Regions from separate parts of the Homo sapiens genome. Here region 1 is linked to region 2. The links come from fine-mapping of genetic effects on gene expression. A gene starts in region 2. The other region holds a variant in brackets. All regions are shown on one strand. Distances are between the middles of the regions.

Region 1 (16,497 bases), 43 kb before region 2:
CTATGGAGCTAGGTCACATTTAGTGCTGAACAGGTTACTGGCATTGTGCTAAATATTTAATACTCAGTTGGCCTCAGCTCCTGTAATCCTTATAGACACCCATGAATTGTGCTCTATTTCCTAAGTTACAATGGAGACGGAAATTCATCTACTTCTCCTGCTCCTCTCTCTTGTCCAATGGCTTCCAAAGGCTTGGTTCATGCAGAGTGCAGTTACTTTCAGGAGCTGCTTATTGCTCACTCCTGGTTATGATGCACATAATAACCACAGACATATTATTAAATATTTGTTGTACTAACTGTGGTTTTGTTTTGTTATCTTCATCTCCATGTGTGCTCATTTTCTTGGTTTGTTGCTGAGGTAGCTGTTTCCCCAGAACTTCTACACATGAGAGATATTTTTTACGGCCTTATATCAATGATCCTATTTTGCCTGTTCATGAAAATGTATGCATGAGTTTTCTCCCCTCTGCATGTCATCTCTATCTTCTGTAGGGCGTAGGGTGCTGTCTTGCCTAGACACATATTCGACTTGGGTTGAACAATCTCTGTCACCTACAGACTGAGTCTCAACACATTAAAAAGTCTTCACTTTACCCTAAGAATAAAGTTAATTTCTATCAAAATTTATTGCTCTGTAGTTATTTTAGAAACATACATTACTTACCTGAGGATATAGAGAAAAGGAATCTGATAACCTAAAAGAAGTGGGGTCTTCTTTGTTATACTGTCCAAACTTTTGACACTATGGAAAGAAAATACCAAAAAACAAACAAACACACACAAAAAGAGAGAGAAAAATCTAAGTTAGCATTACCTGGAAATATTCCTGGACTAAGCTACATCCAGTCTGAACTCTGCCACTTACTATAAGTCCTAGACTAGCACTTCTCAAGCATCAGTGAGCAGGCAAATGACCAGGGGATCTTGTTAAAATGCAGACTCTAGGGAGGAGCTGAAGATTCTGCATCTCTAATCAGCTCTCAGGCAATGCTGGCCTGAGGACTGCCCTAACCAGAGAAGCTAGGTGAGCTCTTCCAGGCACCTGTTCCATATGAAAACCCTCTAACACCATGAAAACTAACAATTATAGTTACGCTTTGATGTTCTCTCACACTAAAACTCAAATTTATTTCTCCCAATGGCAGACTTCTGAACCACAATGTTTTCTCTTCCCGCCTTTATTTCTGCTCACACATTTCTGGTCACTAAAGAATTGGACTGTTCATCATTTAAAGAAACCCCATTTCTAACAATTACTTTCTTCCCACAAAATCTGGTGTCCTTCCGCAGTTCTCGTCTTCTTGAACTTCCTAGCAGCATGAGCCAGGTGACTGCCCAAATGTCTCGAAACTTTCTCCTTCAGCTGCTAATACATCACTTTCCTATTTCTCATAATCTCTCCAACCAACCCTTTTCTGCCTTCTTCAATGGTTTTGTCTTCCTCCTCCCCCTAACTGTGGACTCCTTGGGGGTTAGTTCTTGGCCCCCTCCTCCCATCCTCACTGCTTTGGGTACAAATGAACACTAGAGCCAGATGGGTGTCATCCAAATCCACCCTCCAGTGTCCAGTGCTGACCTATAGCCTGAGCCCCAGTCAGGACATCCACCCAAATATGGGAGTTTTCGTGAGACACACTTTTGCAAGTTCACATTCAATTATCAAAAATTATCAAAAATAAACTATTACATTAAAAAAAGAGAAAAAACTTTCTCCCACCCTAAAGTTGCTCTCCTTTCCCATCTTCTACCTCAACACCACTCATGCAGTTACCCATGTGTGAAATGTCATTCAGTGCTGACTTTTTGGTTTTTGACTTTACACAGAATCATTTCATCAAGTTTTATCAATTCTTTCAGTTTACATCCTGATTTCAAACCTTCTGCTTCCTCCATCTCTCCTGCCACTATGCTGGTCTCAGTGCCATTGAGCCTGAAAAATCCTCCATTCACAACAATAGCCTTTTCTCTCTGCAATGTGCCTCACATGGTGATATTAAATGTAAACACAAGCATCATGCTGACATCAAACCCCCGCTTAACAATCACAGCCACGTCTCCCTTGCTCCCTAAAGTTAAGGAGCTCCCCAATCAAGGTGTACCTTCCCTGACTCTGTTCCCCACTGCACAACCTAGCCTCCTGTGACACTGGTTTCTCCAAAGTCCTCAGCATAAGCTAAAAGACCCAGCTAGCTCCTGCAGGCTCATTCCTGCTAGCCCTCCACTCAGCAAGCCTTGCCTTCCCTTCTCCAATTAATTCTGTAATAAAAACCTGACTCAAGGCTCATTTCCACAGGAAGTCTTTGTTAGCCACCTGGGCCCTCTGCTTATCTATCCTCCCTCTGAAATCCTAAAGAAGCAATTTTCAAATTATGTTTGAAATGTTGACACTTCCTGAAAAATGGTTCCATGAGATGGCAAGGGCAAATAGAGGGCTGAACAAAATGAAACAGGTTTCCCTACTGGGCCTTTCCATGGTGGCTTTGATCACAAACACATGCTGTGACTCTCCAGGAAGGTAAGATTATCATGTGCCAATTATTGATTTATTGCCTTGTGCTGGCTCCAAACTCACCCCCTTTGCCTGCTGTGAAATGGACATGGGCCCTTTCACTACCTCTCCTTTGCCAGCTGGCACGATATCAAGCGTTGTCAGTAGAGAGTGCTGGAGGTGAGCGTCAGCTTTGGGCGCCCGAGTGCTCATTCAGCAGCTTCCCGGGTGCCAGGTCCTGCTGCACCGTGGCTCCCCAGTGCTGAGCTCCTGGAGAACATGGCAGCCAGCAGCTAAGCAGCATCCCTGCATGTCTCCAGTGAGACATTTTCCTATACACAGCTTTCCCTGGCACCCTGGAGGGTGGATTTTCTTCAAATTCTAGAAAGTGAATTTCTAGTAAGTTCCCCTGGCACAGCACCACGGTAACTTCTCTGCAAAAGACTCACCAAGCCATGGCCATGCCCTCCCAACTAGGTCTGGATCAGCCCTGGGGAGAAGGGCACTTCCTTTGGTGCTCTATCTCAGCCCCACAAGTAGTGGCTGCCCACTTCTCTATACTTCCTTCTAGCCAGTCCCTCACTGTTCTACTCTCTTGTTGTATTCTTTATAAAAGACTTTCCCCATTTAAATTACAGTGTGACTTCTCTCATCTCATTAAATCCAGACTGATAAAAGGCATCTCCCTAAACTTACCAGGCTGGATCCCTATTTCCAAAACCACTTTCCAGATTTAGAAGAAAAATACAAGACCAGAGCATTCACAAAATGACTCATCTAAGTCAACTCAACCCACACAGATTTGTATCACTCTCCAAATGCTCCATGCGTGTTGTTTCTTCCCAACTATAATGTAAATCTCTGAGGGGAAAATGCACATTTAACACGTCTTTAACAGAATGTCCAGCGTGCAGCATAAGGTAGGCAACTGATAAATTCTTGCTGATTCACTATATAATAATAATTAAGTGACAATTTTCTTCTCGAAAGTAAAGCAGAAACCAAGACTGAACCTAATGCCACTGTCCCCAATTTACCAGTCGGATGAGTTGTCGGTCCAGCCACCGGAGCACATCGGGCCCCTCCTCTGACTCCGCTCGGAACACCCCAAGCCGTGCCATCAACACTGCCGCAGCCTCCTGGTCAAATGCTGCTTCTATGTGCCTGAGCTGACTCTGTACATCTGCCCAACTGACAATTCCAGAGTTAGTGCCATGCTTATGTTTAGGAGAGATCAGAAAGCCAGACATCCATTCAGAAAAAGAAACACAGGCTAGGTGCAGTGGCTCATTCCTGAAATCCCAACACTTTGGGAGGGCAAGGTGGCAGGACTGCTTGAGCCTAGAAGTTCAAGACCAGCCTGGGCAACAATGTGAGATCACCATCTCTCTGCATAAAAGTAAAAAGATTAGCTAGTTTTGGTGGCAGGTGCCTGTGGTCCCAGCTACCTGGGAGGCTGAAGTGGGAGGATCACTTGAGCATGGGAGGTTGAGGCTGTGGTGAGCTGTGATTGTGCCACTGTACTCCAGCTTGGGCAACAGAGCGAGACTGTCTCCAGATGATAATAATAATAATTAATACTTTTAATGAACTATATTTCCTACAGAAAGATGATTCCTCTAGGCAAGTGTTCATAGGCCCAACTGGGTTAGCCAAAAATGCCTCCTCCTCTGATCAAATAAGCTAATGAGGTCTGGTGAGAACCATTCAATGGAATCAAAAAGACAAACTAACAAATGTTAAAGTATCTCTTCAAGGGAAAAATGTCAGTCAGTTCCTCAACAGAAAGGAAACTGGGGCTGCTTACTTTCGGGCGATGGTGGTCACGCGGATGCGTCTCTGGGTGCTGGAGTGCTGATAATGCGTGACAAACTGGATGGCTCCTCTGCCTCCTTGGGGGATCGGGGTGTTGTGCTGTAGGATGAGAGGCCATAACCTTGTCTGTTATAGGCGCAACTCAAACACGGTCACAGAGCCCACTGTACTCTTCTAAAATGACTGACACAGCAATGACAGGAAGGTTCTTGACACATTTTGAAGGGCACACTTAGGATTTGCACATTTCACTGCATATAACCTTATCTCCAAAAAAGTTGAAGAACTACGTTCAATACTGAACTTAAGTTAATGATACACCTACTGAAGTGTTTAGGCATGAAATACATGGATGACTGAGGCTTGTTTTGAAATGCAGCAAAACGAAGATGGATTGATGAATCACAAACTGGATGAGTTATTGCTGATGAATTATCCAGTTTGTGACGGATTGTTAATCATTAAACAAACACAGACATGCCTCATTTATTTGCAGATTTTTTAACAAATTGAAGATTTGTGGCAATCGTACATCAAGCAAGACTATTGGCGCAAGTTTTCTAACATCATGTGCTCACTTCATGTCTCTGTGTCACAGTTCAGTAATTCTCACAATATTTCCAACTTTTTCATTATTATTATATATCTGCTATGGTGATCTGTGATCAGTGATCTTTGATGTTACCATTTTAATTGTTTTGGGGTGCTACAAACTGCACTGATATAAGATGGCAAACTTAACTGATAAATGTTGTGTATATTCTGTTGCTCCACTGACTGACCTTTCCCTCATCTCTCTCCTCCTCCTTGGGCCTCCCCTATTTCCTGAGATACAACAATATTGAAATGAGGCCAGTTAATAACCCTACAATGCCCTCTAAGTGTTCAAGTGAAAGGAAGAGTCACACATCTCTCATTTTAAATCAAAAGCTAAAACTCATTAATCTTAGTAGGGAAGGTATGTTGAAAGCCAAGATAGCTGAAAGCTAGGCCTTTTGCCCCAAAACTGCCAAGCTGTGAATGCAAAGAAAAAGTTCTTGAAGGAAATTAAAAGTGAACACGTGAATGATAAGAAAGTGAAACAGCCTTATTGCTGATGTGGAGAATGTTTTAGTAGTCTGAATAGAAAATCAAACCAGATACAACATTCCCTTAAGCCAGGGCCTAATCCAGAGCAAGGTCCCAACTCTCTTCAATTTATGAAGGTGGAGAGAGGTAAGGAAGCTGCAGGAGAAAGCTGGAAGCTGGCAGAGGTTGGTTCCTGAGGTTTAGGGAAAGAAGCCATCTCCATAACATAATGGCACAAGGTGAAGCAGCATGTGCTGATGTAGAAACTGCTGCAAGTTATTCAGATTAGCTAAGATCACTGATGAAGGTGGTGGCTACACTAAACCACAGATTTTCAGTGTAGTTGGAAGAAGATGCTATCTAGGATTCTCATAGCTAGAGAGAAGTCAATGCCTGGCTTTAAAGCTTCAAAGGGCAGGTTGACTCTCTTGTTAGGATCTAATGCAGCTGGTGACTCTATTTGGTTTTTCTAAGACAGGTTCTTGCTCTGTCACCCAGGCTGGAGTGGAATGGCATGATCTCAGCTCACTGCAACCTCGGCTTCCCAGGCTCAAGAGATTCTCCCACCTCAGCTTCCCAGGTAGTTGGGACTACAGGCGTACACCACCACATCTGGCTAATTTCTGTATTTTTGGTAGAGATGAGGCCTCACAGCATTGCCCAGGCTGGTCTTGAGCTCCTGAGATCAAGCAATCCACCCACCTTGGCCTCCCAAAGTGCTGGGATTACAGGTGTGAGCCACCATACCTGGGCATCTGGTGACTTTAAGTTGAAGCCAATGCTCATTTACCATTCCAAGTATCCTAGGACTCTTAAGAATTGTGCTCAATCTACGCTTCCTGTGCTCTACAAAAGGAACAACAAAGCCTGGATGACAGCACATCTGTGTACAGCAATTACTAAATATTTAAAGCCCACTGTTGAGACCTGCTGCTCAGGAAAAAAAAGACTCCTTTCAAAATATTACTGCTCACTGACAATGCACCTGGTCACTCAAGAGCTCTGACGGAGATATAAAGGAGATAAACGTTTTCATGCCTGCTAACACAACATCCGTTCTGCATCCCATGAATCAAGGAGAAATTTTGACTTTCAAGTCTTAAATTTAAGAAACACATTTCATAAGACTATAACTGCCATACCTAGTGATTCCTGGGATGGATCTGGGCAAAGAAAATGAAGAATCTTCTGAAAAGGATTCACCATTCTACATGTCATTGAAACACTCATCATTCATGGGAAGAGGTCAAAATATCAACTTTCACAGGAGTTTGGAAGTTTACTCCAGTTCTTATAATTTTGAGGGGTTTGAGACTTCAGTGGAGGAAGTCACTGAAGATGTGGTGGAAGGAGCAAGATAACTAGAATTAGAAGTGGATCCTCAGCTGGGCATAGTGGCTTACGCCTGTAATCCCAGCACTTTGGAGGCCAAGGCAGGCGGATCACCTGAGGTCGGGAGTTCAAGACCAGCCAGGACAACACGGTGAAACCCCGTCTCTACTAAAAATACAAAAATTAGGTGGGTGTGGTGGCAGACACCTGTAATCCCAGCTACTCGGGAGGCTGAGGCAGCAGAATTGCTTGACCCCGGGAGGCAGAGGTTGCAGTGAGCTGAGATGGTGCCACTGCACTCCAGCCTGAGCAACAGAGCAAGACTCCATCTCAAAAAAAAAAAAAAAAAGTGGATCCTGGCTGGGTGTGGTGGCTCACGCCTGTAATCCCAGCACTTTGGGAGGCCAAGGTGGCTTAAGCCCAGGAGTTTGAGACCAGTCTGGGCAACAAAGAGAGACCCCATCTCTTTTTTTTTTTTTTTTTTTGAGACGGAGTCTTGCTCTGTCGCCCAGGCTGGAGTGCAGTGGCGCAATCTTGGCTCACTGCAACCTCCGCCTCCTGGGTTCATGCCATTCTCCTGCCTCAGTCTCCCAAGTAGCTGGGACTATAGGCACCCGCCACCACACCCAGCTAATTTTGTTTTTTGTATTTTTAGTAGAGATGGGGTTTCACCATGTTAGCCAGGATGGTCTCAATCTCTTGACCTCGTGATCCACCTGCCCTGGCCTCCCAAAGTGCTGGGATTACAGGCGTGAGCCACCGCACCCGGCCTTTTTTTTTTTTTAGACGGAGTCTTGCTCTGTCTCCCAGGCTGGAGTGCAGTGGCGCAATCTCGGCTCACTGCAACCTCCATCACTTGGTTTAAGCAATTCTCCTGCCTCAGCCTCCTGAGTAGCTG[G/C]GATTATAGGTGTGCACCACGATGCGTGGCTAATTTTTTTTTTTTTTGTATTTTTAGTAGAGACGGGGTTTCACCATGTTGTTCAGGCTGGTCTCGAACTCCTGACCTCGTGATCCACCTGCCTCAATCTCCCAAAATGCTGGGATTACAGGCGGGAGCCATCACACCCGGCCTATTTTTTTTAATTAAAAAGATGAAGAAGCGGATCCTGAAGATGGGACTGAATTGCTACAATTTCATGATAAAACTTTAATGGATATGGAGTTGCTTCTTATGCATAAGCAAAGAAAGTCATTTGTTGAGATGGAATCTACTCCTCATGCAGATGCTGTGACACTGTTGAAATGACAAGATTTACAATATTACATAAACTTAGTTGATAAAGCAGCAGCAAAGTTTAAGAGAATTGATTCCATTTTTTAAAGAAGTTCTACTGTGGGTAAAAAGCTATCAAACAACACTGCATGCTACAGAGAAATCTTTCCTGGAAGGAAGAGTCGACTGATGCAGCAAATTTCATTGTTGCCTTATTTCAAGAAATTCCGGCCAGGCATGGTGGCTCACGCCTGTAATCCCAGCACTTTGGAAGGCAGAGACGTGCGGATCACGAGGTCAGGAGATCGAGACCATCCTGGCTAACAGGGTGAAACCCCGTCTCTACTAAAAATACAAAAAAAAAATTAGCTGGGCGTGGTGGCGGGTGCCTGTAGTCCCAGCTACTCGGGAGGCTGAGGCAGGAGAATGGCGTGAACCCAGGAGGCGAAGCTTGCAGTGAGCCAAGATCATGCCACTGCACTCCAGCCTGGGGTACAGAGCGAGACCCCGTCTCAAAAAAAAAAAAAAAAAAGAAATTCCCAGGTGGGGCGTGGTAGCTCACACCTGTAATTCCAACACTTTGGGAGCTGAGGCAGGCAGATCACTTGAGGTCAGTTCAAGACCAGCCTGGCCATTGTGGCAAAACCTTGTCTCTGCTAAAAATACAAAAACTAGCCAGACATGGTGGCTGGCACCTGTAAGCCTAGCTACTCGGGAGGCTGGGGTGGGAGAATGGCTTGAACCTGTGAGGTGGAGGTTGCAGTGAGCCAAGACCGTGCCTGGGTGATAGATCGTGCCTGGGTGATAGAACAAGACTTTGTCTTAATTAAAAAAAAAACAAAAAGAGAAGAAACTGCCACAGCCACTCAGCCTTCAGCAACTACTAACCTGATCAGTCAGCAGCCAACAACATCAATGTAAGACCTTCCACCAGCAAAAGAGTATGACTCACTAAAGGATCAGATGAGCATTAACATTTTTGAGCAATATAGTTGACCCTTGAGCAACACAGGTTTTTTTATTTATTTATTTATTTTTTATTATTATTATACTTTAAGTTTTAGGGTACATGTGCACAATGTGCAGGTTAGTTACATATGTATACATGTGCCATGCTGGTGTGCTGTACCCATTAACTCATCATTTAGCATTAGTTATATCTCCTAATGTTATTCCTCCCCCCTTCCCCCACCCCACAACAGTCCCCAGAGTGTGATGTTCCCCTTCCTGTGTCCATGTGTTCTCAATGTCCAATTCCCACCTATGAGTGAGAACATGCGGTGTTTTTTTGTCCTTGCGATAGTTTACTGAGAATGATGATTTCCAATTTCATCCATGTCCCTACAAAGGACATGAACTCATCGTTTTTTATGGCTGCATAGTATTCCATGGTGTATATGTGCCACATTTTCTTAATCCAGTCTATCATTGTTGGACATTTGGGTTGGTTCCAAGTCTTTACTATTGTGAATAGAGCCACAATAAACATACGTGTGCATGTGTCTTTATAGCAGCATGATTTATAGTCCTTTGGGTATATACCCAGTAATGGGATGGCTGGGTCAAATGGTATTTCTAGTTCTAGATCCCTGAGGAATCGCCACACTGACTTCCACAAGGATTGAACTAGTTTACAGTCCACCAACAGTGTAAAAGTGTTCCTATTTCTCCACATCCTCTCCAGCACCTGTTGTTTCCTGACTTTTTAATGATGAGTAACACAGGTTTGAACTGTACAGGTCCACTTATATGTGGATTTTCTTCTGCCTCTGCCACCCAAGACTGCAAGACCAAACCCTCCTCTTCCTCCTCCTCCTCAGCCTACTGAACATGAAGATGAGAGTATGAAGACTTTGTGATGTTCATTTCCACTTAACAAATAGTAAATACACTTTCCTTCCCTTATGATTTTCTTAATAACATTCTCTTTTCTCTAGCTTACTTTATTGTAAGAATACAGGACATAATATATATTACTTACAAAATATGTGTTAATCAACTGTTATCGGTCAGGTTCCCAGTCAACAGTGGACTACTAGTAGTTAAGTTTTGGGGGAGTTAAAGTTATATGTGGATTTTTTTTTTTTTTTGAGATGGAGTCTCGCTCTGTTGCCCAGGCTGGAGTGCAGTGGCACGATCTTGGCTCACTGCAAGCTCTGCCTCCTGGGTTCACGCCATTCTCCTGCCTCAGCCTCCCAAGTAGCTGGGACTACAGGCACCCACCAACACACCTGGCTAAATTTTTGTATTTTTAGTAGAGACAGGGTTTCACCATATTAGCCAGGATGGTCTCGATCTCCTGACCTCATGATCCGCCCGCCTCGGCCTCCCAAAGTGCTGGGATTACAGGCGTGAGCCACAGCACCCGGCCGTTATATGTGGATTTTTAACTATGCAGTGTCAGCACCCCAACACTACTCAAGGGTCAACTGTAAAGTATTTTTTTAATCCAAGAATGAACAATGTTTTCAAAGACATAATGCTATTTAACACTTAACATACTATAGTGCAAACATAACTTTTATATGCAATAGGAAACCAAAATATTCATGTGACTTGCTTTATTGCAATATTCACTTTATTGTGGTAGTCTGGAACTGAACCCACAGTATTTCCAAGGTATGCCAGTAGAGTAAAATGTTAATTACAGAATCAAGTTGATGGGTTCACCTAGGTAGTACGTGTTCACCGTACAATTCTTTCAATTTTTCTGTATGTTTGGAATTTTTCATAATAAAATATTAGGGAAAGAACCGATGCACTAAAAAATTCACCAACATTATGATGACTGGTAAAATCTATTACACTTCTAATGACCTTATCAGTTCAACAATAAAAGGACAAAAGTAATTTGTTGCCTGACTCCGACTAAACCCTTGAAGGAATAAATAAGAAAAGGTCATGCCAGACTATCATCAGGCCTAATACAATACCCAAGGAATATTGGTTTGTGAAGAAAGTAACCAGAGACCACTGGTTTGAGATAAATCACAAAACAGGACACTAAGACATGAAGACATGTGAAGAAATCCAACTCACCTGATTGACAACTTCAAAATAGATGCCAAGTGTAGATGTAGGATCTAGGCCACAGATTTTCCACTGACTCGTGCCACCAACACCAAGCTCCTGGGGGTGGGAAGAGGAATTTGAAAAACAAAACCAGAAAACCATCCCTGTGGTTAATTGCTAATGAAAAGTACTGACTGAGTAGGGCAGGCTACTTAGAGTATCTTCTTTTAGGAGAACATTTAAGTTGAAATAAAACCTTCTCCTGAAAAGAGAACAGATGAAGGCTTAACATTTACATTTACACTTTAAAATTAAGCTTTTTATATTAACATTCTGACCAATTTTTATTACATCATATATACTATACATATATATTATTTATGTTTATTTATTTTGAGATGGTCTCTCACTCTGTTGCCCAGGCTGGAGTGCCGTGACACAATCACAGCTCACTGCAGCCTCGACCTCCTGGGTTCAAGCAATCCTCCCGCCTCAGCCTCCCAAAGTGTTGGGATTACAGGTGTGACCCATCGTTCCGGGTTTACACATATACTACGTGTGTGTGGGGGGGGGTGGGTGTGTCAGGGGGTGTCTCTACATGGTATATAACGCTGAAATCCACAAAGAATCAATCAAGTCAGACTCTTAAGAAAGACCCTTAAGGTGAAATCACACAGCAGCTCTAAGGTGGAGAGCGGAGAGGGTGCACTCTGTTCTGTCAGTACTCCCTAAGCTAGATAATAAGATAGATGGATTCACGGGGGTTCACCTTCCTTGTAGTGGCCTTTTCTAAAGGAAGCAGGTGTTTATTATCTGCTGGAAGGTGAAGAGCTGTGCTCAGGAAAAAGGCAAAGAAGTCAAAGGAGCATTCATGCCTCCCCTTCTTGCCTTGCTAACCCCATTCTAAGCACCAGACCCAGGACGGCTCCTCTAGAGCTCCAAAATATCATTTTCTCACTGATACACAAATTCCTTACTTAAACATTTGCTCTTTAGATGCCTTTATTGGAGAAACGATAAAGACAATTAGGAAATGACCATTTTATAATCCCCAAAGAAATAAACTGATTTGCATGAAGATCAATGGATGCTAAAAACCATTAGGCTGTTGGCAAACAAGAGTTTCATATTGTGCTACACACTCTCATTCAAAAGATTGCCTGCTAATGGCAAAGGGGGAAGTGTTCCCTTACAGTAGAAAGGCAGTGGGGCAGTTACCACCATCACCAAGCGATCTAACTCAGCACATGTAACACGGGACAGCAGACATAGTGCCTCTGGATGTGACACAAGCATAAAGTACACACTGCCCAGGAACAATGCTTGGCAAAAAGGCTTTGCCTGAATGTAAACACACCTTTAACCCAGACTCTCACTTTACAAAGGCTGTAATATCAAATGCAATGCCAGTTGGGGTAAAAACAGCTACAAAGGGCATTTGGGGGGAAATTAGGAAAAAAATATGAACTAGATATTAGGAAATTATTATTTTCTTAAGTTTGATAATGACATCGTGGTAGGAGAACATCGTTATTTTTAGAAGATGCATACTGACGTGCTTAAGGACTGTCATGATATCTGCAAATTATTTTCAAAGGTCGGCAAAAAAAAAGTTGATAAATCAAATGTGGCAAATAAATGAAAATCAGATAAAGCAAATGTGGCAAACAAGACAACAGAGCAATTATGGCAAAATGTTAACAATCAATGACTAAATGGTAGGTATAGAAATTCATCACTCAGTATGTCTGAAAATTGTATTTTCCTATTCTTTGCATCCTCATTCCCCAAACAAAACTTTCATGGCTGAATTCTACTAGAAATATTAATTAGTTTGTACTAATTCATAAAAATACCTTCTTAAACTACTTCAAGAAGCCTTCAGCAGGCAGATTTTAAGTCCATGAAAAATATTTTATAACAAGGCAGCCTTCCAAAGCCTTGCCAGGAAATAGGGGTACAAGCCCCTTAGTACTCTGGGGGTAATGAATGACTCATCAGATGGGCTTTAGGGCAGCAATCTGCCTCACTCAGAAGGCTACAGGAATGTGCTCTCAAATCACCTTGCCTCTGCCAAGCTCAACAAAAGTTTAATTTATGTGGTCACCCAAGAACGTTTGTTGCTGACAACATGAAAGAAGACCCACACTTCCAGTGTGCCAGGCACTAACTGCTTCACCTGAACCAACTCATTTAAACCTCCTAACAATGCTGTAGAGTGGGCACTGTTATTATCCCCATTTGCCAGATAAGGATACTGAATCACAGAGCAAATAAGTCCTTTGCTCGGGCCAGGTGCGGGGTGTAAACCTGCACCTTGGATCCACATCTGGCTCTATGGTCTACCCTCCCATTGATGGTGACAATGAGGGAAGAACATGACTGTGTAACCCCAGCCCAGGACCACCTTAGAGAGGCCTTGCCAAACCGAATGGTTTGCCTCCTAGCAAGTAAAGTATAATCAGAGGAAGTGGACAATAAGCAAAGCCGCTCATCTCAAATGATAACTAAATTGTTCTCAAAAACTATTACTAGAGAAAACAGATGTCTGCACACACAGCAGTGTCACCCACTTCCACACCAACTCATGGTGGTCTCTGTTGTAAAAGGCTTGTTATTAGCTGAGTGAGACAAACGTATCACCTCTAAGGGCAATGAGCAATAGGCTTACTCTGGAAGGACTGTGCTGAATGTTTGCCTTGTGCTGAACAGCATGCCGTGGCTTTGGCACAACGACCATGGGTGGTGGAGTCAGGGGCACCTGGGCTCTAACTCCTTCATGTCAGTTCTGACCCTGAGCAAGATACTGAACCTTTCTGGGCCTCAGTTTCCTTCTCTCTAACCCTTTGGATGAACAGATGGAATAACACCACCTCTCCGAGTATAGTCATCAGTGAGGGTTAGCCCTTCTCCTGTCACTGCAGACACATCCAACAGGTGACACATGTGAGATCATCATGCTCTGACACTTCTGACGGGTTAAATCCGGGGCAGGAGGTGAGGGTGATGGAGTTGTTTTCCTTACATTTTCTGACACACACGGTCCTTTCACATTCAGAGATACGCATGGACCAATGGCTCCTGCAATCTTCAGTTCCCGAGAGGTCTATAACAAATATGTGACAGTGTAAAGTTAAAGATCACTTCAATCCACCCTGCTGTCATCATGGCCACAATGAAAGCTTAGAGGGAAAATATAACACTACTATTCTGCCAAGAGAAAACTCCACAGGGATCATAACTGCTTAGTCCTACAAACTTTTCCTCAGCCACTGTGATTAGAACTTTAATAAAATCCACCCTTAGAAACACTTGAAACATGAGCATTTTCAACTCTCACAACTTACTTTTTAAACTTGGAAATTACTGTACATGTAGATAACAATTCTAACAATACTACATTCTTTTCCAATCCCTTGTATGAATATATTCACATTCATGTATATCCATAATTATTTGCATATACCTAATCAGAGAACATACTGTTTTGTGTTGCTTTAAAAATACTTAATTCATGAACTCCAATATAACGACAAGGCCAACATACTTAGATTTTTAAAATGTGAATTCATTTCAAAAGTCCATCTTTAAAAGAAAACCCTCAAGCATTTAAGATTATGGTTTAAAGTCTAACCTAGATGATTTAATAATTATCTCTAATTCTCCAAGTAATAATTCCAATCGTATCTTCTAATGACGGCCCCTGACCTGCCCCGCCAACTGGCAACTCTGTTGCCCAGGCTGAGTGCAGTGGCATGATCATAGCTCACTGCAGCCTCAAACTCCTGGGCACATGTGATTTTCCCGCCTCAGCCTCCTGAGTAGCTGGAACCACAGGTGTGCACCACCACACGAGGTTAATTTTTTTTTTTTTAAATCATTTGTAGACACAGGGTCTTGCTATGTTGCCCAGGCTGGTCTGTAATTCCAAAGCTCATGCAATCACCCCACCTTGGCCTCCCAAAGTGCTGGGATTACAGACATGAGCCACCGTGCCTGGCCTAACACCCTCTTTTAATGCTTTCTCAATGACTTAGAATCAGCTGTATCAGGGCCATGAGTCCCTACATGGGAAAAAAAAAATCTCAAAATGCTGTCTTTTTTTTTTTTTTTTTTTGAGACAGTTTCACTCGTTGCCACAGCTGGAGTGCAATGGCAGGATTTTGGCTCACCGCAACCTCCGCCTCCTACGTACAAGCCATTCTCCTGCCTCAGCCTCCCAAGTAGCTGGGGCTACAGGCATGTGCCACCACGCCCGGCTAGTTTTGTATTTTTAGGAGAGATGGGGTTTCTCCCTGTTGGTCAGGCTGGTCTCGAACTCCCAACCTCAGGTGATCCGCCCACCTCGGCCTGCCAAAGTGCTGGGATTACAAGCATGAGCCACCATGCCTGGCCCAGTGCTATTTTAGAGTACTTTGGCTATTCTTCAGGAAGACATTAAACATAACCACGTCTCTGTGCAATGCAGTGAGCCATGCTGATGGCTGGGTGGATGCAGACCACCGTGTGGCTGCCCCTGTCCTCAGGCCACAGTGCTGCTCATAACACCCACCCTACTTCCTCTTCTATCTCCTACTGCCTTGAAGCAGGGTGGAGCAGAGCCTGAGGGTGAACCAGGCAGCTTGTTACTTAGAACATAAATAAATATATAGGTCATCCTCAAGAAGCAAAGGGATAAAGTGAATAACATGCTTTTAATAGCCATTTGGTTGAGATCCTTTTAATTGGCTTTTACATGCCCATGTCCAGCAGGTGGAGGTTGCCAGAAGTCTGGATATTGATTGAAAAAGTAAGAACACTATAATTTCATTGAAGTTTTAAAAGTATGGCCAGGTACAGTGGCTCATGCCTCATAATCCCAGCACTTTAGGACGCTGAGGCGGGAAAATTGCCTGAGACCAGGAGTTTGAGACCAGCCTGGGCAGTACAGTGAGTCCACATAAAAAAAAAAAAAAGTTTACCGTACCTTTACGTCCAAAGTAGCACCAAATGCCATTCGGAAATCTCCATTAAAATCTTTAGTAAAGATTCTTTGGAATGTCTGCTTGAAGAGAGAAGTGTTGAAAGAATCTCCCATTACCATGTAGCCTCTAGGTAAGAAGAAAAAAATCAAGTGAATATTAGGAAGATTGAAAGCCATTCAGATGCTCCCTCAGTATTTACAAAAATAATTTAAAGAAAAAAAGAAACCAGGTCCCCAAAAGAGCCACTGATTAATTTAAATATAAAAAAACAGGCCAGGCACAGTGGCTCACGCCTGTAATCCCAGCACTTTGGGAGGCCAAGGAGGGCGGATCACTTGCGGTCAGGAGTTCAAGACCAGCCTAGCCAACATCGTGAAACCCCATCTCTGCTAAAAACACAAAGATTAGTAGCCACAATCCCAGCTACTCAGGAGGCTGAGGCAGGAGAATCACTTGAACCCAGGAGGCAGAGGTTGCAGCGAACCAAGATCGGACCACTGCACTCCAGCCTGGGCGACAGAGCAAGACTGTTTCTCAAACAAAAAAAAAATTAATAAATAAGTAAATAAATAATAAAATAAATTAAAAAAATAAAAACAGCAT
Region 2 (16,497 bases):
TGGGTTCAAGCGATTCTCCTGCCTCAGTCTCGTGAGTGGCTGGGATTACAGGCGCAGGCCACCACACCTGGCTAATTTTTGTGTTTTTAGTAGGGGTTTCGCCATGTTGGCCAGGCCGGTGTCGAACTCCTGACCTCAGGTGATCTGCCCACCTCGGCCTCCCAAAGTGCTGGGATTACAGGTGTGAGCCACCACGCTCAGCCTAAATTCTGTATTTCTGGGTCAGACTTTTCTACCTAACATCCGATTCAAATATTCAGCAACCTGCTGGGTTCTTCAAAGTGTGTTTACTGTGCACTGGTTACCAATTCAGTTCACTGCATCTTGGGCTGTACTTCTACTACCTGCCCGAGTCTGGTGAGCCAGAACACTCACATACACAAGTTACATGAAGTGGATTTATTACTCACAGAGAAGCAGCAAGGGACAGCAGAAACCTAGGATTCAACATGAGCTGGTCTCTCAAGACTCAGGAAAGCCACACGGTGCAGATCGAGTCTCGTCTGTGCATGCCCACTTGTATTCTAGCTGGGAAAAGCCGTAAAAGCATTGAAGGACATCTTGTTTTTAGTGAGGCTAGAACACAGCCTGGGCTGTTCTGGCTATTTCCTCCTTATCTCAGAATACTATATTCCCAGCACATCGGAATTATTCTTCAGAACTATGAGCAAGAAAGTGGGGAGAACTGGGCCAGTCCAAGGCCGTCTGGAGAAATGTCCTGCAGATATCACTGGGTATGCTTGCACATCTCGATCTTAATATGTCCTAAACTGAATCCATCATCCCCCTGGCTCCCAGTGAACCTTCTGCCTCTTGTACATCTTCACTTGAAGATGCCATTCTTCTCCCAGTTACTGAGTCTATAAAGTAGGAAGTTATCCTTGGCTCCTCCTTATTTCTAACACCTCCACCTTGAAGGTGACACTGAATCACTTGGTCTTGTTAATTTGTTACTCTATTTCTCAATTTCATCTACTTGCTTAGTTCAGGCACTCATCCTCTGATTGGATTCCTGCAACAGTCTCTCGAATGATTGTTTTGCCCAAATTTTGCCCGATCTAAAAATCACATTGGTTGCTGGATAGACTTCTCTAAATCACATATCTGACCCTACTATTCTCTTGCTTAAAACCTTACATAATTTTCCCATCATTCACAGGATACAGTAGGGGCCCCTGTGCTACTCACGGGCCTCAATGATCTACAGATCTCAATCCTCCAGTAATGAACCACTGTCCTTCCCAGCCCACATGTGCTGTTTGTTGTTTCAGTGCCCTTTTGCATGCCTTCCTCTCTGCCAAGAACAGCCTCTTCACCTCCCTTCCTTTCCCAGGAGCTGCCATGTGTGCTTCAAGACTTTGAAGAAGGCTTCCATTGACCTCCTTTCTCCTCAAGGTGGCAAAACCAAAATTCAAACAAACAAGTAAACAAAAGCAGTGGCAGAAAGGAAAAGTAACCACAGAAGAGAGGAGAATAGATTTAGACCGTGAGTTTGAAGACTTAGAGACAAACTTCCCACAGAAAACATCCTGACCTGAAAAGAAAAATCCAGGCAGAGGAAGATTATTCAGCAGGAGGGCCTCAGTGGAGGGAGGGTGATCCCTTTAGAAGGAGGGCCTCAGTGGAGGGTGGAAGATCCCTTTAGAAGGAGGGCCTCAGTGGAGGGTGGAAGATCCCTTTAGAAGGAGGGCCTCAGTGGAGGGTGGGTGATCCCTTTAGAAGGAGGGCCTCAGTGGAGGGTGGGTGATCCCTTTAGAAGGAGGGCCTCAGTGGAGGGTGGGTGATCCCTTTAGAAAGAGTCAAACTGTCTCAGCAAGTTCTTGAGAACAACTTCTTCAATATTAGCAAATGAGGTACCAAATATAAAGGTGCATTTTCAGATTTTTAAAAATTCACAAAAATGGCCGGGAGCAGTGGCTCATGCCTGTAATCCCAGCACTTTGGGAGGCTGAGACGGGTGGATCACGAGGTCAGGAGATCGAGACCATCCAGGCTAACATGGTGAAACTCTGTCTCTACTAAAAAAAAAAATACAAAAAAAAATTTAGCTGGGCATGGTGGTGGGCGCCTGTAGTCCCAGCTACTCGGGAGGCTGAGGCAGGAGAATGGCGTGAACCCGGGAGGCAGAGCTTGCGGTGAGCCGAGATCGCGCCACTGCACTCCAGCCTGGGTGACTGAGCGAGACTTCATCTCAAAAAATAAAATGGACAAAAATGTTGGCTTTTAGCTTTGAAACTAAAACTGTTTCTTCTGTGATAATGATAAGCTCAGAAATTGTTTGTACAAGAGATAAAAAGTAGAAAACAAAACGGATATATGTAATTATAATCTTCTCAATTATTATTGGCATAAACAACCTAAGATGAGAGTTAATGTCACTGCCTTTTTTCTCCTTCTAGAAGAATGAGCTAACTAAATCTTAAGGGAAGCTAGATTGCTAGATCCTTTTTCAGCCCCCAGTTCCTGTTTAGGGAGTATCACTGCTTCTTGAACTAAAAACTACTAAGCAAACAACCAGTTGGTTATAGGAATGTCTCTGCTTGTTTTATGTTGACATTTTATTCCTTTTTTTTTTTTTGAGACAGAGTCTCACTGTGTCACCCACGCTAGAGTGCAGTGGCATGATCATAGCTCACTGCAGTCTCCCATGCTCAAGTGATCATTCTACCTTAGCCTGCTGAGTAGCTGGGACTACAGGTGTACACCACCGTGCCTGGCTAATTTAAAAAATTTTTGAAGACATGGAGTCTTGCCATGTTGCCCAGGCTAGTCTCAAACTCCTGGGCTCAAGCAATCCTCCCGCTTTAGCCTCCCAAAATGCTGGGATTACTATTTTTAAATTTGAAAGAGTTATATTGAGGTATAATTGATGTACCTTAAGCTGCACATATTTAAAATGTACAATTTATTAAGTTTTGACACCCATCACCACAATCGAGATAATAAACATATATATCACCCCCAAAAGTTTCATGTCCCTTTGTTAATGGTGGAGGGTGTCCAGTTTCTTAGCGTCTTGAACAAACAATTAGACGAAACGCACAAAGAAAGGAAGGAAAGAAGGGTTTCATTGAAAATGAAAGTACACTCTACATTATGGGAGCAGGCCTGAGCATAAGGCCTCAAAATCCCCATTATAGAATTTTTGAGCATTTAAATACCCTCTACTTGGGGTACACCCTATGTAAATGAAGAGGATGAAGTAAAGCTACAAAGTCATTTAGTTGGCCTACACCCTGTGAAGAGGATATTTCCTGTCATTACCGAAGTGTGAATCGGCCTTCTGTTCCCTGCCTCCAGACCCTATTTTCCTGGCTCATCTGCCCGCTGAGAGATGTGATCCCCATAAATCTTTATGGGAGGCAGAGGGACTGATGGTCTTTTTTCTGTAACTGCTTCATGCTGGCTTGGGGTGTAGTCCCTACCTACTGGTGATCATGGAACTCGCCCTGCTCTATCTAGTGGAGGCAGGGTAGTTTCTTGATGGCTAGGGGTGGTGTCTTCACCTGGAACTGGCTGGAACCTTTGTTGCATGATCATCTGAAGCTTGATGGTCTCCAGACGAGAGGAAATTAATTTGGTTAAAAGATTTAATGGGATGGCCGGGCGCGGTGGCTCACGCCTGTAATCCCAGCACTTTGGGAGGCCGAGGCGGGCGGATCACGAGGTCAGGAGATCGAGACCATCCTGGCTAACACGGTGAAACCCTGTCTCTACTAAAAATACAAAAAATTAGCCGGGCGAGGTGGCGGGCGCCTGTAGTCCCAGCTACTCCGGAGGCTGAGGCAGGAGAATGGCGTGAACCCCAGGGGGCGGAGCCTGCAGTGAGCCGAGATTGCGCCACTGCACTCCAGCCTGGGCGACAGCGAGACTCCGTCTCAAAAAAAAAAAAAAAAAAGATTTAATGGGAACTTCATGGGGTGGATACCTACGCTGTCAGAGATGTTTGTTATAGAGATTTGCAGAAAAAAAAACAAAACCTAGTCTGTTCTAGAATCTATGTTTCCTTGAAGTCTTAGCACAAGCAACTCCATTTTGGTTTGGTTTGGTTTGTTGGGGCCTAATGCATGAGCTTAGTCCAAAACAATGGCCTCGCAAAATTTTGTGCAAAAAATTCCCCCTTTTTGGTCAGGTTCTCACTTAGGTGAGAGTGTGACCAAAACTTAGGGCCTTAGCGCCACTCTCAGTTACCATCATTTTGGGTTTCGGTCTCAGCACATCATTTATAGGTTTTGGTGTTCTCATGGTTGCACATTTCTTTCAGCTTTTGTCATTCCAGTTGAAGAGAGAACATCTGACGTTCTAGAGATGACCGCGTGCAAACATTTAAAACCTTTGAGAGAATACAGCACACCAGGGAGACTATTATTATAAATATTGGGAGGATAACACCAAGAGTTCGGGGTATGCTCCTAAACCCAAGGCCCCGATAAACCAAACCTCCTAAAATCAAATAGATCAAAGAATGAGCTAGATAAAGGGTTTACTCACTTGACTAAGCAATTTCTTCGTTAATCCTCTACCACTGAATTTATTTTTTTCTTTTTTCCTTTTTTTTTTTTTTTAGACGGAGTCTTGCTCTGTCGCCCAGGTTGGAGTGCAGTGGCACAGTCTTGGTTCACTGCAACCTCTGCCTTCCGGGTTCAAGCAATTCTCTTGCCTCAGCTTCCTGAGTAGCTGCGATTACAGGCACCTGCCACCACGCCTAGCTAATTTTTGTATTTTTAGTAGAGATGGGGTTTTGCCATGTTGGCCAGGCTGATCTTGAACTCCTGACCTCAGGTGATCTGCCTGCCTCGGACTCCTAAAGTGCTGGGATTACAGGTGTAAGCCACCGCGCCCAGCCAATGAGGGATACATTTCTAATCATTGCTTCTTTTACTTCAAACCATGGTAAAAGGACCTAACAAATGATGCCTTTCTAGAAGAGTGAAGGCCTACTGGCAATGTTTTCTTTAACCCATGATGTGGGTTAGAGGAGTGAACCAATGTTTTGTTTTTGACTGATTATGAAGCAATGCATGTACCATTAAAGTTTCTTACCTACTTCGGGCCTTCATCTTTTATCTATCAAAGTCTAAGTTTATCCATGTATAAGGCTGGCTGCAAACTCCTTCACAAATAAAAGTATACCCCATAAGTGCACATAACAGACCCCTTTTCCACTTCTATTGTTTGTAGAGGCATAAGGAAGACAAAAAATATTGAAAGATAAGAGTTTCATGGTAGTAGAAGTCTTAATCTGTGAACTTGGGAAAAGCTGTTCACATCAAGGATGCCATTTTCTTCTTGGGAGAAATTTCCCAGGGTAGCTTTACCTCAAAAGTTCCAATGGGTGCACTGTTCCAAAAGTGTGGAGGGACCGTTCTCATTTGCGAGACCATGAACCCAAAGCCCAAGGTCCTGAAGTTTTGTTGTAGTGTGGATGACAAGGACAGTCTTCTCCAATGTTTCCAGAAAATTCAAACCATAAAAAGCTTTCTTTACCGGGGGAAAATACACTGTAGCATAATAATCTACTGTTATAACATCAGCCCTCTTGCATGGGAAAGCTTTTATACAACCAGAATGACAAATTGGAATTCAAATAACAATTGAATGAAATCCCCTTACAAAATGTTTAAATGGCCCACCCGGTGACCAAATGTACATGAAGCTTTGTTTGTCTTCCCAGGAATATGGGACTAAGCATTGGTTATAAACTATTTTAAACAATTTCAGTATCAGCTGGTTTAATATGAAAATCTGACGAAGTATTTTCTTGGTATTTAATTAAATTTTTGCTTGTTTTACTTGGGTTAGTAGCTTTATGCAAGGAAATTTCATTCAAAGCAATGAAAAACAACAACCAGGGCTGATACTGACTACTAAAAACTGTTTTAAACTCAGAAGGAAAAATAATATGGATTTCAGGCGTTCCCAGGTTATAAATGGGTTTTCTGCATGTTTGAAACCAAAAACAAACTTTCCTATAGAAATATCAGTAAATCTAGCAAAGAAATAACACACCCCAACCGTGTCATAGCCTGTCTTAAATAAGGGAAAAACATGAGAGCACTAGTAAGAGGCAAGTAAAGGGTGCTTTGCTTTACAATTGATGGAAGCTCGCAGGCTTTGTTCTTGGCTGCCCCACGCAGCCAGCGGAAGGCAGGCCAAGGAGGAAAGAGCCCGGCCTCCCAGGTCCCCGCAACTACAACTCCCAGGATGCCGCGGCGCAGGCTCCCTGCGGGAGCAGGCTGGGCTCAGCTCCGCTGGACCCGCGCTGGGGAACTCTGGCCTCGCTGCACTCATGGCTTCTCCTAGCAAGGCAGTGATTGTTCCCGGGAACGGAGGCGGGGATGTGACCACCCACGGCTGGTATGGCTGGGTGAAAAAGGAGCTGGAGAAGGTAAGCGCCCAACGCCGCTGCTCCGTGAAGTCAGCCTGGAGGGAGGGACGGCGGGAGAGGACTGAGGGCTGAAGTTTGAATAGGCGTCTAATCCCCTCTAGCAAAGCCCTGTGTGTTTTCCTGCCTCTCCCCCGCTGCCTTCTCTTAAAGTCTGAGCTAGTGGTCGAATTTTGACTGGTAAAACTGCCTGGAAGACTTCTCTGAGGGCTCAGCCTTTAGAGTTAAAGGAACCCCTTTGAACTACCGAGGCTGAGCCCCTGAGCCCCGCCCCCCGTATCTGCTGCTGGTTCAGATTTGGGACTTCCCAGATAATTTTACATGTTCACTGCTTCCCGCTTCAGCTTTTAAAAAATTAAATATGCTATACTTAATATATACAAAGGATATACGTAACATGCGTCTACATTATGAGGCATAATGTAATGAATTACCAAACTAAAACCTGGGACATTGCCTATACATCATCTTCCAAACGACCCTTATGTCTACCCATCTCAGTCCCGTGCCATCCTGAATTTTTTCATCTGCTTCTCTTTTTAAAATTGAAGTACTTTTCAACCTATGAATATACCTTTTAAACAACAGACTGTTCTATTTGGCTTCTTGGTGAGCTTTATAAAAGTGGCATCTTACTGTAGGCTGACCTGTGCCGTTTGATTTTTATTTTTTAACCCTCTTCTGTAACCAGGCGGTAAGTCGGCTCCCTGGGTTGCTGTCCTCTAGAGCGGGTCTCCAGAATAGATTGCAGCGCTGTGGCTGAAAACCCTGGTCAGAGTTACAACCCCAAAGGTCAGGGCTGGAGCTTCTGAGAGTATGCTGTCTCCAAATTTCTGTATCACGTTCCTGTGCCACGTTTTACCTACTCCCTGGAACACAGTCTATTTGGCTCCAGGTCAGTCTGTCTAGAACACATTTGTTCATGCCTCTCTATAGATGCAGGCCTGTAGAGGCAAATATGGGTGTACAAATGCAGATATAGGTCTCTCTATAGAGATCAGCAGAGCTGCCTAGATACAGAACTACAGATGGAGTTCATGCGAAAAGATGGTCACTTAACCTACTTCATTTCATAACACAAGTTAATACTGAATTGGTAACGATCATATCAGGTGCCTCATTTCTTATTAGCAAAGTATTAGTTGTAATTAAGCTCTTTATTATAGCTTTTTCTCCCCCCTCATATCATAGATACCTGGTTTCCAGTGTTTGGCTAAAAACATGCCCGACCCAAGTAAGTTTTAAACTTGTTTTTAAATAGCCTCATCTTGTTGGGTTTTGATATTACCATTTTTGTGGTAGAGAACAAGAATATCATAGTGGAGGAACCAAAGATGCCTATATACCTAAGAAAGAATAAGGCAAGCAGCTTGGGGAGGAGGGTGTGAACCAAAAGCCATAGAAAATTCTTTTTTTTTTTTTTTTTTCAATTCTGTGAATTTGTCATTTTTATTTATTTATTTATTTATTTATTTATTTATTTATTTATTGATCATTCTTGGGTGTTTCTCGCAGAGGGGGATTTGGCAGGGTCACAGGACAATAGTGGAGGGAAGGTCAGCAGATAAACAAGTGAACAACGGTCTCTGGTTTTCCTAGGCAGAGGACCCTGCGGCCTTCCGCAGTGTTTGCGTCCCTGGGTACTTGAGATTAGGGAGTGGTGATGACTCTTAACGAGCATGCTGCCTTCAAGCATCTGTTTAACAAAGCACATCTTGCACCGCCCTTAATCCATTTAACCCTGAGTGGACACAGCACATGTTTCAGAGAGCACAGGGTTGGGGGTAAGGTCACAGATCAACAGGATCCCAAGGCAGAAGAATTTTTCTTAGTACAGAACAAAATGAAAAGTCTCCCATGTCTACCTCTTTCTACACAGACACGGCAACCATCCGATTTCTCAATCTTTTCCCCACCTTTCCCCCCTTTCTATTCCACAAAACTGCCATTGTCATCATGGCCCGTTCTCAATGAGCTGTTGGGTACACCTCCCAGACGGGGTGGTGGCCGGACAGAGGGGCTCCTCACTTCCCAGTAGGGGCGGCCGGGCAGAGGCGCCCCTCACCTCCCGGATGGGGTAAGCCATAGAAAATTCTAGTAAGGATTAGGAAAGCACCTGGGCATGGTAAAATTTAATTTTCAACTTTGCACCAACTTGATTTTTCCCTTCTATATGTCTACAAATATTTTCAGGCAGAATTTGTGGGTACTATACTTGAGGCATAGGTATAAAACTTTACAGCATCTATTTGAGGTCCTAATGTTTAAAAATGTCATATTGCTACTTTTGTTCTGGGTATGCCTATGACTTGTCTCAGGAATCCCCTTTTTGGAAAGAATGAATAAATGTGAATTTTAGAATGTTGCAAGAGTTTTTTTGCTTTTTTTTTTGAGATGGAGTCTCGCTCTGTTGCCCAGGCCAGAGTGCTGTGGCGTGATGTTGGCTCACTGCAACCTCTGCCTCCTGGGTTCAAGTGATTCTCCTGTGTCAGCCTCCCAAGTAGCTGGGATTACAGGCATGCGCCATCACGCCTGGCTAATTTTTTTTGTATTTTTAGCAGAGACGGGGTTTCAGCATTTGGGCAGGCTGGTCTCGAACTCCTGACCTCAAATGATCTGTCCACCTCAGCCTCCCAAAGTGTTGGGATTATAGGTGTGAACCACTGCACCTGACCATTAGCTTTTTTTTTCAAGTTTGAAAGTTTACATTAAAATTTCAGAGTTATATTTTATTATTTCCTTAGTATTTTCTTACAAGAACATGGTAAACCAAAAAAAAAAAAAAAAAAGAGAAAAGAAAAACTAGTTACCAAAACTGTGGACTTGGATCTTTCAAGTAGTAATACATAAATCTTTGGTTTTGTTAATACAGTCTGGTCTCCTGCTGTGGTCCTGCAGTTTTAAAAGTTGTGAACTGCTGAATAGTTGCCTGTTTGAAAGGTGGGGCAGCGTTGGATTCAGACTGCCACTATCAAATGACAGACTTTTTCTTTACCCTGAACCTTAAGTTACAGCACGAGAGAGCATCTGGCTGCCCTTCATGGAGACAGAGCTGCACTGTGATGAGAAGACTATCATCATTGGCCACAGTTCTGGGGCCATCGCGGCCATGAGGTGCGATCTTTGTTAAACTGCTATCCCCTTTGTGGGCTCCAGTCATGCTTGCTTGAGAAATACCTTGCGTATATCTTAAATTTCTGTTGCAGAGGAAACAGTGCTGACCTCTAAAGTGGTAACATAATCTGTCCTAATTCCTTCCTGGTTTTGCTAGTGGATTGAAAGAAAACAAAAAATCTGCTCTTATTGAGATGCAGTGATCCTTTTAAAGCATAAGTGGCTGCAAACCCCAGTAGCTTCCCATCAGTCAGCTCTGATTCTGTCTCTACAGACTCTCCTTCTCTCCTCCCAGCCAGGTTTACTGACCTCATTGCAGTTCCTGGAACATGCCAAGTACATGCACATCTTAGCCTGCTCTCATCCTTCTACCTGGGATACTCTGGCCCTAGACACTGCATGGCTTTCTATTCCCCTTGAAGTGTCTGCTCAAATGTCCCCTTTTGGTGAAGCCTTCTCTAATCACTCCATATGAAATGGCTTCCTCACTCTACTGGCTCCTATCTCTTTTATATCTTATTATCTGCAGCACTTTTTACCATCTGACATCCTGTTTATTTCTTGTCTGTCTCCTGCCAATAGAATGTAGACTCCATGAAGGCAGGGCTTTGTTCACTCTGGCACTGAAACCCCATTGCCTAGAAGAGAGCCTGGCATATGGTAGATTGTGTCTGCAGTGTTACTCACCTGCGAATCCCCAGTCCTTAGGATTCGTATGCACATCCCTACTGCTCTCATTAGAATATTACATCTCCCCTTTTAGCCTTATAAGGCCTAGTGGGTAGGGACTTAGCTGGCTGAATAAGCTAAGTTTAGCCTATAAGGGTTGAGTTTCTTTCATATTTGCTAGGCAAAATGACAAAGGATAATAGTTTTTATTTGTCCCAAGCAGTCACTTAGGCTGTCACATGAATTGCATGTCAGGGAATCTTGCCAAATTTCATAACCTTTCAGCCACACTGATTAAAGTTACAAGAGTATTTCAGGATGGAACCACAAAATTATGGTACACTCCCAGTGTAAGAATGTTATATGCTGCCAGGGGTTGTCTGGAAAAGGAAGAGCTCCTTGTATTATTGAATTCTGTTCCAACTCAAGGCCAACTGCATTTTTCTCAAGCCATTGATTAGTAAAGGTGTGCCTGCTTTTAAAGATCCTTGAACTCACTGCAGGATTCTTAGCAACCTTCTAAGAATTGACTTCTAAAGTTAAGGGAGGCAAGGAGAAAAATGGATGCCAAAACGATTGGGTTAAGGTTGTAGAATTTCCTATTGACAAAATCATAGAGGACTACCCTACAGATGACTCTAATCATGAAAGGGAAATCGTGCCTTTCCAATGGAGAAATCAGGTGGATATCACTTTAAGCAAATGATCAAACTTAATCTCACCAATAATAGACTGGCATCATGTGTCCCCTGATGTAATGGCATGGGAAGGACACAGCATCACCTATGCAGTATCCTTGCCAGAAATGTTTACCTCAGTCTAGTTAGGAGGAAACAGACAATCCTATTTAGAGGATAATGTACAAGACAACTGGCCTACACTCTTAAACAATGTTAATGTCATTTAAAACAAAAAAATTTTAAAGTGACTGAAGAGCCATGAAAATAAAATGCAATGCATAATCCTTGACTAGATCTAGGATTGCAGAATGTTTTAAAGGACATTTTTGGTACAGTTGGGGAAAAATGAATACAGATAATATTGCTGTATCAATGTGAAATTTATTGGGTGTAATAGTGGTACCATGGTTAAGGGAGTGGCTTTCTCAGGAGATACATGCTAAAGTACGGGTGAAATGTGACAAAATTAATGAATCTAGGTGCTTGTTCTTTTTTTTTTTTTTTTTTTTTTTGAGACAGAGCCTCCCTCTGTTGCCCGGGCTGGAGTGCAGTGGCACAATATCGGCTCACTGCAACCTCTGCCTCCCAGGTTCAAGCAATTCTCCTGTCTTAGCCTCCCGAGTAGCTGAGACTACAGGCGCCTGCCACCACACCTGGCTAATTTTTGTATTTTTAGTAGAGACGGGGCTTCACCATATTGGTCAGGCTGGTCTTGAACTCCTGACCTCAGGTGATCTGCCTGCCTTGGCCTCACAAAGTGCTGGGATTACAGGTGTGAGCCACCGTGCCCGGCCTAGGTGCTTGTTCTTTCAACGTTTCTGTAGGTTTGATATTTTTCAAAATAAATGGGGAAAAAAGTTCAGGCCCAAGAACAAAATACCAACCCTAACTCTTTCTTGGCACAAAGGCCCCTTGAAATTATTACTACTATGTGTCTTTCCTTATCCCAGTCTTTGCTGAGGGAGACTGCTCTCTGCAAATATAACTGTGGTTTTTGCCAATAAAGGAGACTCACTCTACTGGCTCCTATCCTCTTTATATCTTATTATCTGTAGTACTTTTCACCTAGATCTAGTCAATCCTAGATCTAGTCAAGGATTATGCATTGCATCTGACATCCTGTTTATTTCTTGTCTGTCTCCTGCTTACTTTTAATGGCAAAAACTGCAATTACTTTTGTACCAACCTAAGAGTTAGCTGGGTGTCTACTTGCCAGGCACTGTAATGGGCACCAGGAACACAAAGATCAATAGGACTCATGCCTGCCTTTAAGGAGCTGACAATTTATTGAGAGAAATGTACATAAGACAACACAAATGAATAATATAAGGCAATGTGGAGTGTGTGGTAACAAAGGTACATTTCTGGTATTATACAGTGTTTCTTAAAATACAGTTCACAGACCACTTGCATTAGAGTCATCTGGGTTGAAGGAGGGATCACGCCTTAAAATGCAGATTCTAGGCCTTAATGCCAACTTTCTGAATCAGAGACTCTGGGTCTGAGCCTGAGAATCTGCATGTTCACCAACCAAGTGACACTGATGCATACTAAACGTGGATGGATTACACATTTTTTGTTTATTGGGAAAGGTTTGTACAAGTTTCAACTACCTTGAAAAATGGGTAGTGGCTGGGCGTGGTGGCTCACGCCTGTAATCCCAGCACTTTAGGAGGCCGGGGTGAGTGGATTATTTGAGGTCAGGAGTTCAAGACCAGCCTGGCCAACATGGTGAAACCCCGTCTCTACTAAAAATACAAAATTAGCTGGGCGTGGTGGTGCATGCCTGTTATCCCAGCTACTCAGGAGGCTAAAACAGGAGAATTGTTTGAACCCAGGAGGTGGAGGTTGCAGTGAGCCAAGATTGTGCCACTGCACTCCAGCCTGGGTGACAGAGTGAGACTCTGTCTCAAAAAAAAAAAAAAAGAAAAATGAGTAGAAGCTCATCCAGTAGCCAGGGTTGGGCTTATAGTTCTGCAGTTTCCTTGCCATTTTTCACATCAACCTCAACAGCAGGTAGCACGTGCTTTCTGTAGGCTACCTCAAATGAGTTTTTAAGTAGTTTATTGACTTTTTGGTGATCAGAGGTAACATTATATATTAGCTGACATCATTTTTGTTTCTCCAGGTATGCAGAAACACATCGAGTATATGCTATTGTATTAGTGTCTGCGTACACATCAGACTTGGGGGATGAAAATGAGCGTGCAAGTGGTAAGTCCAAAGGTAGAAATCTGAGCAAAGCCCTTCTCTAGACATGGGGCTGTCTGTTTAGGTTGTAAAAACAGTGCTGTCTTTCAGATAGGCTAAAAAATTCTAATAGCATATGAGAAAGATATACCACCTATCTTTGGATATAAGTTTGCACTTTGATTTCTTCCCAAGCTGTAAGTCTAGAACTGAACCCTAGAGGCCTGGTTTTAGTTGAACCATATACCACCTCTTCACGAGTAACTGTGGTATCAAGCCCTACAGATTTGAAAACAAAAGAAGTGCTTCTAACTCACACGGAGGCTCTGCTCCTTTGCGTCTCTATGTGGGTCGCCAGTAGGTATTTTAGAATATCTAGAAGGGAGATTATCCATGGGTACTGAAAGATCATTTTTTTTTCCCCATAGGATACTTCACCCGCCCCTGGCAGTGGGAGAAGATCAAGGCCAACTGCCCTTACATTGTGCAGTTTGGCTCTACTGACGACCCGTTCCTTCCCTGGAAGGAACAACAAGAAGTGGCCGATAGGTTGGAAACCAAATTGCACAAATTCACTGACTGTGGCCACTTTCAGAACACAGAGTTTCATGAACTGATTACTGTTGTAAAGTCTTTGCTGAAAGTACCAGCATAGACTGTATGATTTCTGCTATTTTGCATCCCAATATAGGAGTAGAATAATATCTACTATCAGCTGATTACTAGACACATAGAACATCCAGTTAAGTTCCGTAAGTGCCTGAAAAACAAACACAAGTTTCAACATTCAATCTAAGTTACAAATAGCACTTCCATTTTCCATAGACTCTAAAACTCCCCAAATTGCTATGAACTACCACAGTATTTTCCTCATTTGATAAGAAACATAAGGACAGCTTAACTACCCTTCTCTATCCGAAGTGAGTCAGAAACAGAACCCAGGTTTCTTGATTCCCACTCCTGAGTAAAATTAAATAGGTTTTATGTATGTTGCAGGTATTGCACACTTTTCCTCTTTGAAATCAAACTTTTCTATTTCACTGGGGAAAGAAAACATGACTGAAAGTCCAGAGTGTTAGCTTAGAGCTCAAAATACTAGCTGCTGTTTCAAGCTGGCCCCAGACATTAAACTCAGACTAGGGCCTTCACCTCTGACACTTGCCCCTAAGTCCTTCAGACATGTTGAGAGAGACTGAGACAGGAGTCTTCCGGAGTCAGGCAGGAAGGAGAAGCACAGCAATATACATTCATAATATACGTACAACTGACTAGATTTGTTTGAGACAAGAGTGGTGGGATCAGAGCCATGTGGAGAGCTCATGGCCTGTCTAAATTGTTGCCATGTGGAAATGGGGCAGAGTGTTGCCAATTTTCTGATTTTTTGTGTGGAAAAAAATCTCCAAATTGTAGTTTTTAAATTTGGGGAATGCAAATATATATATATATACACACACACACACACACATACACATACAATCCATATACATATGGAGTATGTAAGTTGGCAATAACAGTATACATCAAAAAATTTACAAACACTGCAAGACAAATAAAATCCAAGCCATCCATTTGTGACCACAGTCATAAGCATTCACTTAGCCAGGGGCTTTTAGATAATTGTCTGTGAAGTCTGAGAAAAGACTAAGATAACCAAGATGAACATAATGTCAAAGGACGAAATCATGGGGACAATTTGGATTTTGTTCCAAAAGACAAGTGTTTTTAAAAAGAACCTTTCCATACTTCGTGTTCTGTTCTATAGAGTTAAACCTTTTAACTTCCATGGCCCTTTAGATCTCTTTCAAGCACATTCCATTTTCTTCTGATCATACTTCCTCAGAAAACCTTTTTTTGGCTGGGTGTGGTGGCTCATGCCTGTAATCCCAGCACTGTGGGAGGCTGAGGTGGTTGTATTGCTTGAGGCCAGGTGTTTGAGGCCAGCCAGGGCAACACAGCAAGACCCCATCTCTACAAAATATTAAAACATTAGCTAGGCATGGTGGTGCACACCTGTAGTCCTAGCTTCTTGGGAGGCTGAGGCAGGATTGCTTGAGCCCAGGAGTTTGAGCCTTCAGTGAGCTATGATCGCGCCACTGTACTCCATCCTGGGTGATGGAGCGAAGAACCTGTCTCTTAAAAAAAAAAATTTTTTTTTAATTAAAAAAACCCACCCTTTTTCATTTCCCAACATTTTTTGGCTATTATGATCGCTATGTGTTCCTTCAAATAATTTCCAGTGAATCCACACTTGATGTTGCAAAGCCTAAGTTTGCTGCAGAAATACAATTTCCTACACTTCATACCTAAAGGAGATTCAGAGCTATCGCTCAAAACCAAAAGTCTTGGTTTTTAAATGTGCTTAGACAAAAAAAATCAGGAAAGGTACCCTAATCGTTCAACAGCAATCATCTTTGGGGAATGGGCATTTTGGTAGGTAAAGTGTGGTGGACGTCCTTATTATTATTTTTGAGACAGTGTCTTGCTCTGTCTCCCAGGCTGGAGGTCAGTGGCACAAATCTCAGCTCACTCTAACCTGCACCTCCCGGGTTCAAGTGATTCTCATCTCAGCCTCCCAAGTAGTGTGAACTAAAGGCATGTGCCACCACGCCTGGCTAATTTTTGTATTTTTAGTAGAGACAGGGTTTCACCATGTTGGCCAGGCTGGTCTCGAACTCCTGGCCTCAAGTGATCCACCCACCTCAGCCGCCCAAAGTGTTGGGATTACAGGCATGAGCCACCATGCCCGGCCCCTTATTTTACTTTATCCTCCTGATTATTTGAATTTGTTACACTAAGCATGTATTTTATAATCAAAAATAATTAAGATTTAAAACAATGTATTTGACTACTAAAAAGCAAATTATATAAATCAGTTGAATAATAATGTTGTTAAAGAGGCTGTTTAGCACTAATTTGACCAAATCTATAGTCAAAGTTTGATTCTACTTGAATTTTTTGGAAATTTGCTGTTGTATTACTTATTCTTTGCCTTGTTCTCTGTGAAGTCCTTTCCTAAAAAAGAAACTTATACAATTTAGTTCACAAAACTTTGTTGACCTCTTTCTCTGTAGAAATGAAAACTAAATATATATAATTGAGAAATAATTCTGATACTCTTCATTCCTATAAAAGTAATTAAGATAGACCTATAGGATTGTTGAACTTTGCTGCCAAATATAGTAACCAGTAACCACAGCTAGCTGTAAAATTGAAAATTCAGTTCAGTCAAACTAGCCATATTTCAAGTGCTCAACAGCCACTGGTGGCTATTGGTTACCTTACTGACCAGCCAATATAGGCTATTTCCGTCATTATAGAAAGCTCTATTGGACAACATTGGTCTAGGACATATATTTTGTATTTTCCCCTCACCCACCATCCAATAATGAGTAATAGCACAAAGTAAAAGTGACTTAATTTGAAATTACTTCTGTTTGGCTAGTTTGCTTAGCTGATCAC

Direction of the effects. Positions count from the first base shown, and alleles are read on the strand shown. Sizes are in standard deviations (SD) of each study's normalised expression.
In carriers of allele G in region 1, the expression in fibroblasts of the gene that starts at base 6,232 in region 2 tends to be higher than with C alone (moderate effect, 0.44 SD a copy in GTEx).

Evidence for each region. PIP is the estimated chance that this variant, and not a neighbour inherited with it, causes the effect.
Region 1: its variant is the best candidate, but not a certain one, in a credible set for the expression of RBBP9 in fibroblasts (GTEx, PIP 0.78).

What each region holds. Positions count from the first base shown.
Region 1 is chr20:18,530,203-18,546,699 of GRCh38, reverse strand. It overlaps SEC23B (SEC23 homolog B, COPII component), which reads right to left. Exons shown (of 20, transcript NM_006363.6): 10 at 15,897-16,020; 11 at 13,956-14,036; 12 at 10,958-11,047; 13 at 4,298-4,404; 14 at 3,528-3,681; 15 at 667-744. Among named protein-coding and RNA genes, the nearest start is that of SMIM26, 29 kb to the left of the region's middle. The variant G/C (reference allele first, on the strand shown) is at 7,604.
Region 2 is chr20:18,486,960-18,503,456 of GRCh38, reverse strand. RBBP9 (RB binding protein 9, serine hydrolase) reads left to right here and starts at 6,232. Exons shown (of 5, transcript NM_006606.3): 1 at 6,232-6,388; 2 at 7,577-7,619; 3 at 9,394-9,499; 4 at 12,977-13,062; 5 at 13,467-16,497. The coding sequence starts at 6,290. The coding sequence ends at 13,693. RefSeq lists enhancers at 6,070-6,129, 6,230-6,279, 5,883-6,447, 6,300-6,459, 6,630-6,679.